2 separate regions of the Homo sapiens genome follow, and region 1 is reported to be linked to region 2. Evidence: microRNA targets listed by miRTarBase, many of them from high-throughput screens and not tested one by one. Region 2 holds a microRNA gene; the other region holds the end of a gene's coding sequence.
What was found. Region 2 holds the annotated microRNA hsa-miR-190a-5p (UGAUAUGUUUGAUAUAUUAGGU, at 2,915-2,936, shown strand). A microRNA usually pairs through its seed, bases 2 to 8, with sites in the 3' UTR of a target mRNA and lowers its output. Matches are read on the target gene's strand: a 7mer-m8 pairs with bases 2 to 8, a 7mer-A1 pairs with bases 2 to 7 and ends in A, and an 8mer does both.

Region 1 (4,061 bases), not on the chromosome of region 2:
ACGAGGATGAGCCAGGTCTGCCCAGGAAGGCAGACTTCTCTGCCGTTGGGACCATTGGGCGCCGGAGGGCCAATGGCTCTGTTGCGCCCCAGGAAAGGAGCCACAATGTGATAGAGGTGGCTACAGACGCACCTCTTCGAAAGCCTGGAGGCTATTTTGCTGCCCCGGCTCAGCCGGATCCTGATGATCAGTTTATCATACCCCCGGAGCTGGAAGAGGAGGTCAAAGAAATCATGAAGCATCACCAGGAGCAACAGCAGCAGCAGCAGCCGCCACCACCCCCTCAGCTCCAGCCGCAGCTGCCGCGGCACTACCAGCTGGACCAGCTGCCAGATTATTACGACACGCCACTATGACCCAGCCGAGCTGTTTAACAAATAAACTAACCACAAAAGACTGAGTTGCAAGAGTCTCCCAGGCTCACATTAAACCAGGGGTTTTACTCCACATCCTTCCCCCAGACACTGTTCCCAACCTGTCATCGCAGCTAATCTGTAGGTTCTCTTTCTTTGGGTTATTTTTTTAAGTAATCACCACTTTCTTCTAGTGATGCTTTACCAATATGATTTACATTTGTTAACTTCTCCCCCTAACATATCAGATATGTAAAGACAAAGAACAAAAGGTTTAATATATTACAGAGAAACAGTTAATGATAATGTAATATTTTTTAAAATGGCTTTTTGTTGTTTGTTTGGAAGGCAGGGCAGGCTGCCGTTGCTAAATGATTTAATAATATTGTAATTCTGTATTTCTTTGGGGGGAAAAGGCTTTTGTTTTGTTTTGTTTTGTTTTGTTTTGTTTTTGTCTTGAAAATAATAGACATTTGTAGAATATGGAGACTAACTCCTAGGAGTTGCTTTACTCTGTCAGGTGACTTAAGTCACTGGGATTCACTAATTTTCTCTGAGAGAACAGCTGATTGAGAATTTCCATTGTAAATAGCTCAGTGTTGTATAGTGAGGCTTACGATGTTTTGTAGTCTTGGCGTAAGGACACAGCCCAAGTAACTGACGTTTCCCCTCCCCCTCCCCTCTGAGGAGCCTGCCTGCCTCACAACTCACCCTCACTTCACTGAATGAGGAGGCTGAGCAGCTGCAGTGTTTCTGTCCGGAGGAAATGGATCTTAGGCCACTGGACAAGAACCTGCACCCAAGGGCCCTGAACCCATTTTCCTCCCCTGTCCCAGCCTTCCCACTTTGACAGACACTTTTAACTGTGTTCCTTACTGCTGCCACAATCAGCATGGTTGTATAGTGCCCCATTAGGCCATTTACATACCCAGAGTTATACTCAAGCAGAATGCACAAATGGACATGTCATAATTTTTGTTACAATAAATATGAAATTTACAAGTATTTACAAGTATCTGCTTTTGTCTCAGCAGCCAGATGTTTCTTGGAGACAGTCACACTAGCTTGCGTTTAGAAAGAATGGATGGAATATTGGGGTTATCAGATATTTCTGATTTTTTTTTTAAGAGAAAAACATCCAGTAAGTTAACCTACATTGAATGAAATGTGAAATTAACCAAATGGTAAGCAGTATAATTAGCTGATCTTACAGCTTTTCTTTTCTTTTCTTTTCTTTTTTTTTTTTTTTTGAAATGGAGTCTCGCTCTGTCTCCCAGGCTGGAGTGCAGTGGTGTGTTCTCTGCCCACTGCAACCTCCGCCTCCCGGGTTCAAGTGATTCTCCTGCCTCAGCCTCTGAATAGCTGGCATTACAGGCACCCGCCACCATGCCCAGCCAATTTTTGTATTTTTAGTAAAGATGGGGTTTCACCATGTTGGCCAGGCTGGTCTCATACTCCTAACCTCAAGTGATCTGCCCACCTCAGCCTCCCAAAGTGCTAGGATTACAGGTGTGAGCCACTGTGCCAGGCCTGATCTTACAGCTTTTCTATTTCTTCTTATGACTTAGGGTAAGATGTTTGGGTACTTCTTAGGGAAGATGTGAGAAGGGGGATAGACAGAGGTTGCATAGATAGGGGAGATCCCTGGACAACTTTACTCTCACGAAGCGAAGTTTTCAGTTTTCCTGGGGGGCCTGTAGCTCACATAAGCAGGTTAACCTGCCTCTTACTTGGACAGGGTCAATCAAGCTGGTTGGCTTGCCTTCCACCACCAGCAGGAATCGTGTAGGTGCAGCGGTGTGTACTTAAGAAAGCCAGTATTCCCAGCTACTAGTCAACTGCATTTACAGACAGGGACCTCCGCCTTCACCTCGCCCCCACCCTACACGTGTGAACCTTGTGTGGAAGATACTGTTGGTCTTCATCTCACATGGACCACCTTCCTATGTAGACCTGGCTTCCTTCTTTAGGTCTGCCCTTGGGTGGGACCTGGCTAATTCAGTGACAGGGCAGTTCTTATTTCTTAACTAGTAGACTTGGTGGTGGGCTCTGTGTCCCCCTCTAGGAGGCCGCTGGGTGGACTTTGTTTTCGTAATGGCCGTACTTCATTTCCACATCAGGCTACTTGCACACAGTGCTCTTTGGAAACCACTAAAGCCATGGAAGAGAATTGCCTCATCTCGGCCCAGTGAGAGACCCAGGGACCAAGGAAGCTGACTCCCCAGTACAGGCGGAGCGCTCTGGCTGAGACTGGAAGCTAAACCACCTTGGGACCCCTGCCCCGGTTCCACTTCCCAGCCCCTTACCTTGTCCCTCGGGCTGCCCCACTGGGTTGAAGCAGATGTGGACAACTCCAAGCTCTCACACCGACGCCTTAGTTCCTGCAGGTCTGGGCTGCTTCTCTGACTTCCTCAGTTCTTAAACCCCCTCTGGGCAGGGTTCACCTGTCCCCGGGGGTGGAGCACACCCCGGCCTTGTATGTGGATCTCTTCCACCGCAGCTCACTTCCAGAGTGGTCAGAACTGGCTGAGCGTGGTCCACGGAGGCAGCAATCGCTTCCAGATTCTAAAATGGGCCCCACAGCAACTCTGTGCCAGGGGCAGCCACTGGGCCCCACAAGCTCTGATGCAGGGACACCTCATTTCCTAACTTCTGTGTCTGCTGCAGGAGAAAGGGGTATGAGACTTGGAATTGCTTTTTTCCTGAGTCCTCCAGTTTATTTGTGCTTGCTGCTGGGTTTATTGTCTCTTTTCGGTCCCATTGTGCACATACTACATGTAAGGCACCTTGGAGTGAGACTGCCCTTTGGAGGCTTGGGGTAAGTAGGGCATTTAGATGAAAAGGTAATTCAGTCAAGCACATGTTGAGTGACCAAAGTGGCATAGACTTAGCTGATAGGTCTCCATGCGGTTGCATAGGAGCTGCCTCAGTTATTTCTGAGGAGTTTCTTTGCATTTCTGTTTATCCAGATAGCATCTAATAGTATATGTAGAGCTGCTTATACAACTGAAAGTGCTTTCTGAATATTAAAGTGCTTAATATTTGAAGATCCCTGAAGCCACAGTGTCTGCAGGGTAAGTATTAGGGAGAAGGGCATTCCCGCCTGCTCTATTCCCTGCTTCCTGCTGGAAATCCAGATAATTGGGAAAGGGCTTTGAGGGGAGAGAAAGGAAGAAATGAAACGGGAAGCGGAGAGCTGTGGTGAGCCTTGCTAGGAGAAGAACCCCTGATCGAGGACCCTAGAAACTGTTTGGTGTTGGATCCAGCGCATGCTGCCCGCCCTGTGCTGCCCTCAAGCTTCCTGCCCTTCGCTCCTGCTCCCGAGCACTGGCTTTGATGAGAGGTAGCAGAGCCGATCTCTGGGACCCAGAAACCCCACCTGCCTGCCTTGGTTTCTCTTGATTGCTTTTGTCACAGCACCACCTGCTGGTAAGCTTAGACTTTGGGTGGAAATGGGCTTCACTCTTTATCCTTCCTTCACTTTCCCAGAAGAAACAAAGTGTTTAAGTTTCTTATCACTGTATTTTCGTAAACACATGATAGCAAACTCCTATACCACTGTCAAGTATAGCCGAGAAGCTGTGTTTCCGCTTTGTAAGACAGTAGAAGTGATGACAGCTGGTTCCTGTGATGAGCCTGATTTTCCATGGGAAATTGACATGCAGAAATATTAAGATGGATAACCAGAATCATATAGTTTTGCTGGGA
Region 2 (4,064 bases):
GAGAGGATGGGTAGCTGGTATGTTTTTTCCTTCTGTGTTTGTCATGTAGATAAATGTTTAAAACTTAAGATTATAGGTATATGTGAAGAGAAATAGCCATTTAAAGGAAAGAGATACTTTTAGATTAGGCAGGAGGAAGGACACTTTCTAAATAAAAGGATGACAAGCTAGTGCTGTCTCCAGGGGCAAAGCCCCAATCCTGTTAAGCTAATACCTCCTACCCCACCTTCCATAGCTGTCTTCAGCAGGAAAATGGTAGAACCAGAGGCGGCCTGTTTTTCTTCCTATTCAAGTAAGTCCCTGGTGGTGCATGTAACTCATCTATTTCCAAGGACCCAGATATACTAGGAAATAATATTTGGCTTTTCCCCTCAAAAAAGGGCTGGATTCCACCAATTTAGGTATACCTAAAAATTTACCTATTTTTGTAAGACCAAGGGATGGAGTCTGGGCCCTGAAACAGAGCAGACCACTCAAAAGCAGTGCCTGGGCCAGTGTAGTGTATGAAATAAACACAGACTGAGTCTGTTCAGCTTGGGAACATTATTAAAACCTTCGAGTGCTTAGAACCAACCTCCTAATAGTCGCTCTGGACTTGGTAAAGGCACTTAAACGTTTTCTCATCAAGATGTAACTTAAGGATTTGGGCTTCTGATTGTGGGGTTTACCAGGGCTCTCTCTGCTGGACTCTACCTGGGAGTCTTGGGTTGCCTGATATTGTCAGAGTAAGAGCCAAGTGTGGGTGTTGGGACAACTCCATTTTCTGGTTACGCCTTTGTTTCTGCTTTGTCAGTCAAGTTAATCGTGAATGAAAAGTGTACTTTAAACTTAAGAGTCAACCATTAACTAAGATTTAGAGGTTTGGTGCATGATGTTTTTCCATTTCCTTGTCTGATTTATCACGATGGCCTTTCTTGGGGAGGGCTCTGTCCGCTAATGCCGAAGCCATGTCAGTTGACACATTCGTTCTCCTGGAGAATTAGCCTGGTGCTAATTTAACATTAACACTTCACCATATTCTAAGAGCTCCTGTTTCAATGTCTTTCCCTTTGTCCTTCCGCAGGGTCCTTCTGAGCTCTTGTCTGAGTCCTGGTTTCCCCGTGTCTGGTCGTTCACTTCACGACTCCAGATGGGAAAACAAAATTATTAAAGTTCCTACCCCATAGGATTATTGTTATAATAATTAAATAAGATAGTATAAGAACACTGCCTGACATACAGTGAGACTTGGTAGATAGTAACTATATCACCATTATTATCACCATCATCACTGAAAATGTGTGTCTGGGACTTACTCCCTAGGAAATGCCTGAAATAAAAATTATTCCACTGGCCCCTGAAGAAAGAAAACCAGGAAGCTCGCGTTGTTCAGCTGCCAAGCCTGTGCCAGGCAGTCTTCTGGGTACTTTATGGGAGTCACTCATCTGATCCTTGGAAAAAGTCCATTAGAATCAGAAGCACCAAGAGGCGAATTACCTTGCCAGGGTCCGACCACTGTCACTCAGCTGGGAGGGCTATGTATGGCCCTGGGTGGCAGTTTCAGTCCATACCAGCCCCTGTTTCCCACCCCATTGTCAGAGAAGGCTTGTCTAGTCCCACAAAGGCCATTTGTAGTTTATGTGTGCCCTTAGAGCTACTCCTCGAAGGAATATTATGCAGCTATAATATTATGCAGCTATGAAAAATAATGGTTGCTAGGACTGTGTAGCACGAAGAAAATGCTCATGGTATAACAGAAAGGATGCAGAATTATGTACTTATTATGATTACAACTCTAAAAACTCACAGATGAAGAAAATAAGTAGGGAATGTACAAGAATGATGATGGAATTGGGATGATGGAAGGGTCTGTGTTTTAACATTTTATAAAACAAAGGTTTAAAAAATAACAGCACCTTAAAAATTAATGACTGCTGAAGTAGGCCTGTGAGGACTCCCTACAGTACTCTAGGATCATATAGCCTTTGTGTTTACATTGAGGGTTTTTACAGGAAAGCCAAGGAGTCCTTCGGCCAAGGTCAAGGTTAACATAACTGATGATGTGAATCCTTTGTTTGAGGGTTCCTACCTTAGCTCACTCCCATCGTATTAGGAAGGGTGATGGGTACTTCTAGAATGCTTCACAATGGTCTGAAGTCTTTCTCTGCCTGATGGCCAGAGGTGGATATTATCTATGAAACTGTTTTGGAAAACCTGCAACCCAAACCATAGTTTTTGTGCCTAATAGGGCACATTGCAATAACTTTTGCATGAAATATCTTCCTTGCCTTTATAAAGGAATTTATTTCCCCAATTAAAAAACAATAACAACAATCTGCACCAAAATCAGCCAGTCTTTTGAGTTGAATCACTTCTCTCCATTCTCTCCCAAAACCTTAAAAAAATCCTCAGGGTACTGTCAGTAAACAATTGCTTATTACATCCCTATAACCCTACCCTGGTACACACACATGCCTTCAGTATAAAATGGATGTGTGTTCCTTCTGGGGAGTATTCACACTGCTTTCAGGAAGAGTTTGGGGAGAGACAGTAATTTTGTCTAAAATGCTCTGCTCACCACCGTCTCAGGTTGCCTGTTTTTAAAGGAGAATGGCTCATGGTCTTTGATGATGATTCTGGTACATTTCCACCTCAGGCTCTTAAAACTTAAGCATCACTTTTTGCCTGGGATCTCCCAGACATGCACCGTTGAATCTGCTGTTCACCTGGGGAGATGAGAATGTCAGTGAGCGCTGGTGCATGTGCTGACAGTATTGTTAATGGCGCCGTTTCCACATCTGCAGGCAGACTTGTGCTCCAAAGACAGTTATCGGAGTTGCTGCAAAAGTGACCACCCCCTGCAGCCGTAACCTTCAATACTGTGCCTAGTCTCGAGCTCAGTCAAACCTGGATGCCTTTTCTGCAGGCCTCTGTGTGATATGTTTGATATATTAGGTTGTTATTTAATCCAACTATATATCAAACATATTCCTACAGTGTCTTGCCCTGTCTCCGGGGGTTCCTAATAAAGTTTATAAGGCAACAGGAAAGAACACGTTAAAATCACAAGTAGATTTAGAAGATGGAGCACTCATTACAATTCATGTTATCTTCCATTTCTTCTTATAGCATTTGAGACCTGTATCAGTATTACTGGATTACTTGCTTATTATAGAAACAATAAGTGTTGATGTTTCATAAGAGCCTGGGGTATTCTGTGTGGCTTAGTTTTGTGCAGTGATGAATCCTTAAGGAATTCAATATGCTTGGTGGAAAAAACGGTTCCAACCCATGTCTGTGACACAGAATAAAGGTCAGGATTATAGCCTCAAACACATCTAGATTCATGTTTCATTTTGGTTCATTTTTATCCTGATCTTCAATTTAGAAGTTCATGTCAGGGTTTCAGCAAAAATTCAAGGAGCACAGATCAGTTTTCTATGACTTCCCTTTCCACTCACAGTAACAGAATGTATAAAGCAAATCCTCCATACCAGCTGCATGGATACTGAGTCAGTGAGCTTTGTACAAACCTTGGATATAGGACTAAATATATCTCATGAAGGTAATATAATGTTGACTGAACTCTTGAATTTCCTGTTATAGGTTAACTTGTCAGTGGAGGTTGGTAATATTTAGAATAAGCCAACAATCGGAAAGTAATATCATAGCCTAATTGACTGTGGCAGGAAGTTTGGGATTATGATATAGAAAACATTTTTTCTGGTACATAACAGCCTTCTTTGGTTGGTTTTGACCTCTTCCTTATAGAAAAGCCTGTGAAGTATGTGTGAGTTCATTCTGAGTTCTCTCAACAAACAAAATACTTTGTGAGCACTGCTTTCTGGAAAGAGAACTACTGTTCTCAATGTTTTGGAGGAGAAAAGGTGTAAGCAAATGGTTTAAACAGGTAGTCATGAAAGCTTCCCCTTACTGTGTCTAGAAGTCATTGCCACATTGCTTACAGGTGAATGCATAGTGACAGGGTCACCAACAGCAACATCAGAGAGGTGATGACACAGGAGAGGGTCCTGTAATGTTGGAGTCCTGGCTTCTGGAGTTACATAATGGATCCTGTCTCTGGA

Region 1: the mRNA of PHLPP1 is a reported target of hsa-miR-190a-5p. Seed matches in the 3' UTR shown: 8mer at 593-600.

What each region holds. Positions count from the first base shown.
Region 1 is chr18:62,979,076-62,983,136 of GRCh38, forward strand. It overlaps PHLPP1 (PH domain and leucine rich repeat protein phosphatase 1), which reads left to right. Exons shown (of 17, transcript NM_194449.4): 17 at 1-1,358. The coding sequence ends at 356. Among named protein-coding and RNA genes, the nearest start is that of PHLPP1, 270 kb to the left of the region's middle.
Region 2 is chr15:62,821,057-62,825,120 of GRCh38, forward strand. It overlaps MIR190A (microRNA 190a), which reads left to right and starts at 2,901; the gene lies at 2,901-2,985. The region is part of intron 54 of TLN2 (talin 2); the gene reads left to right.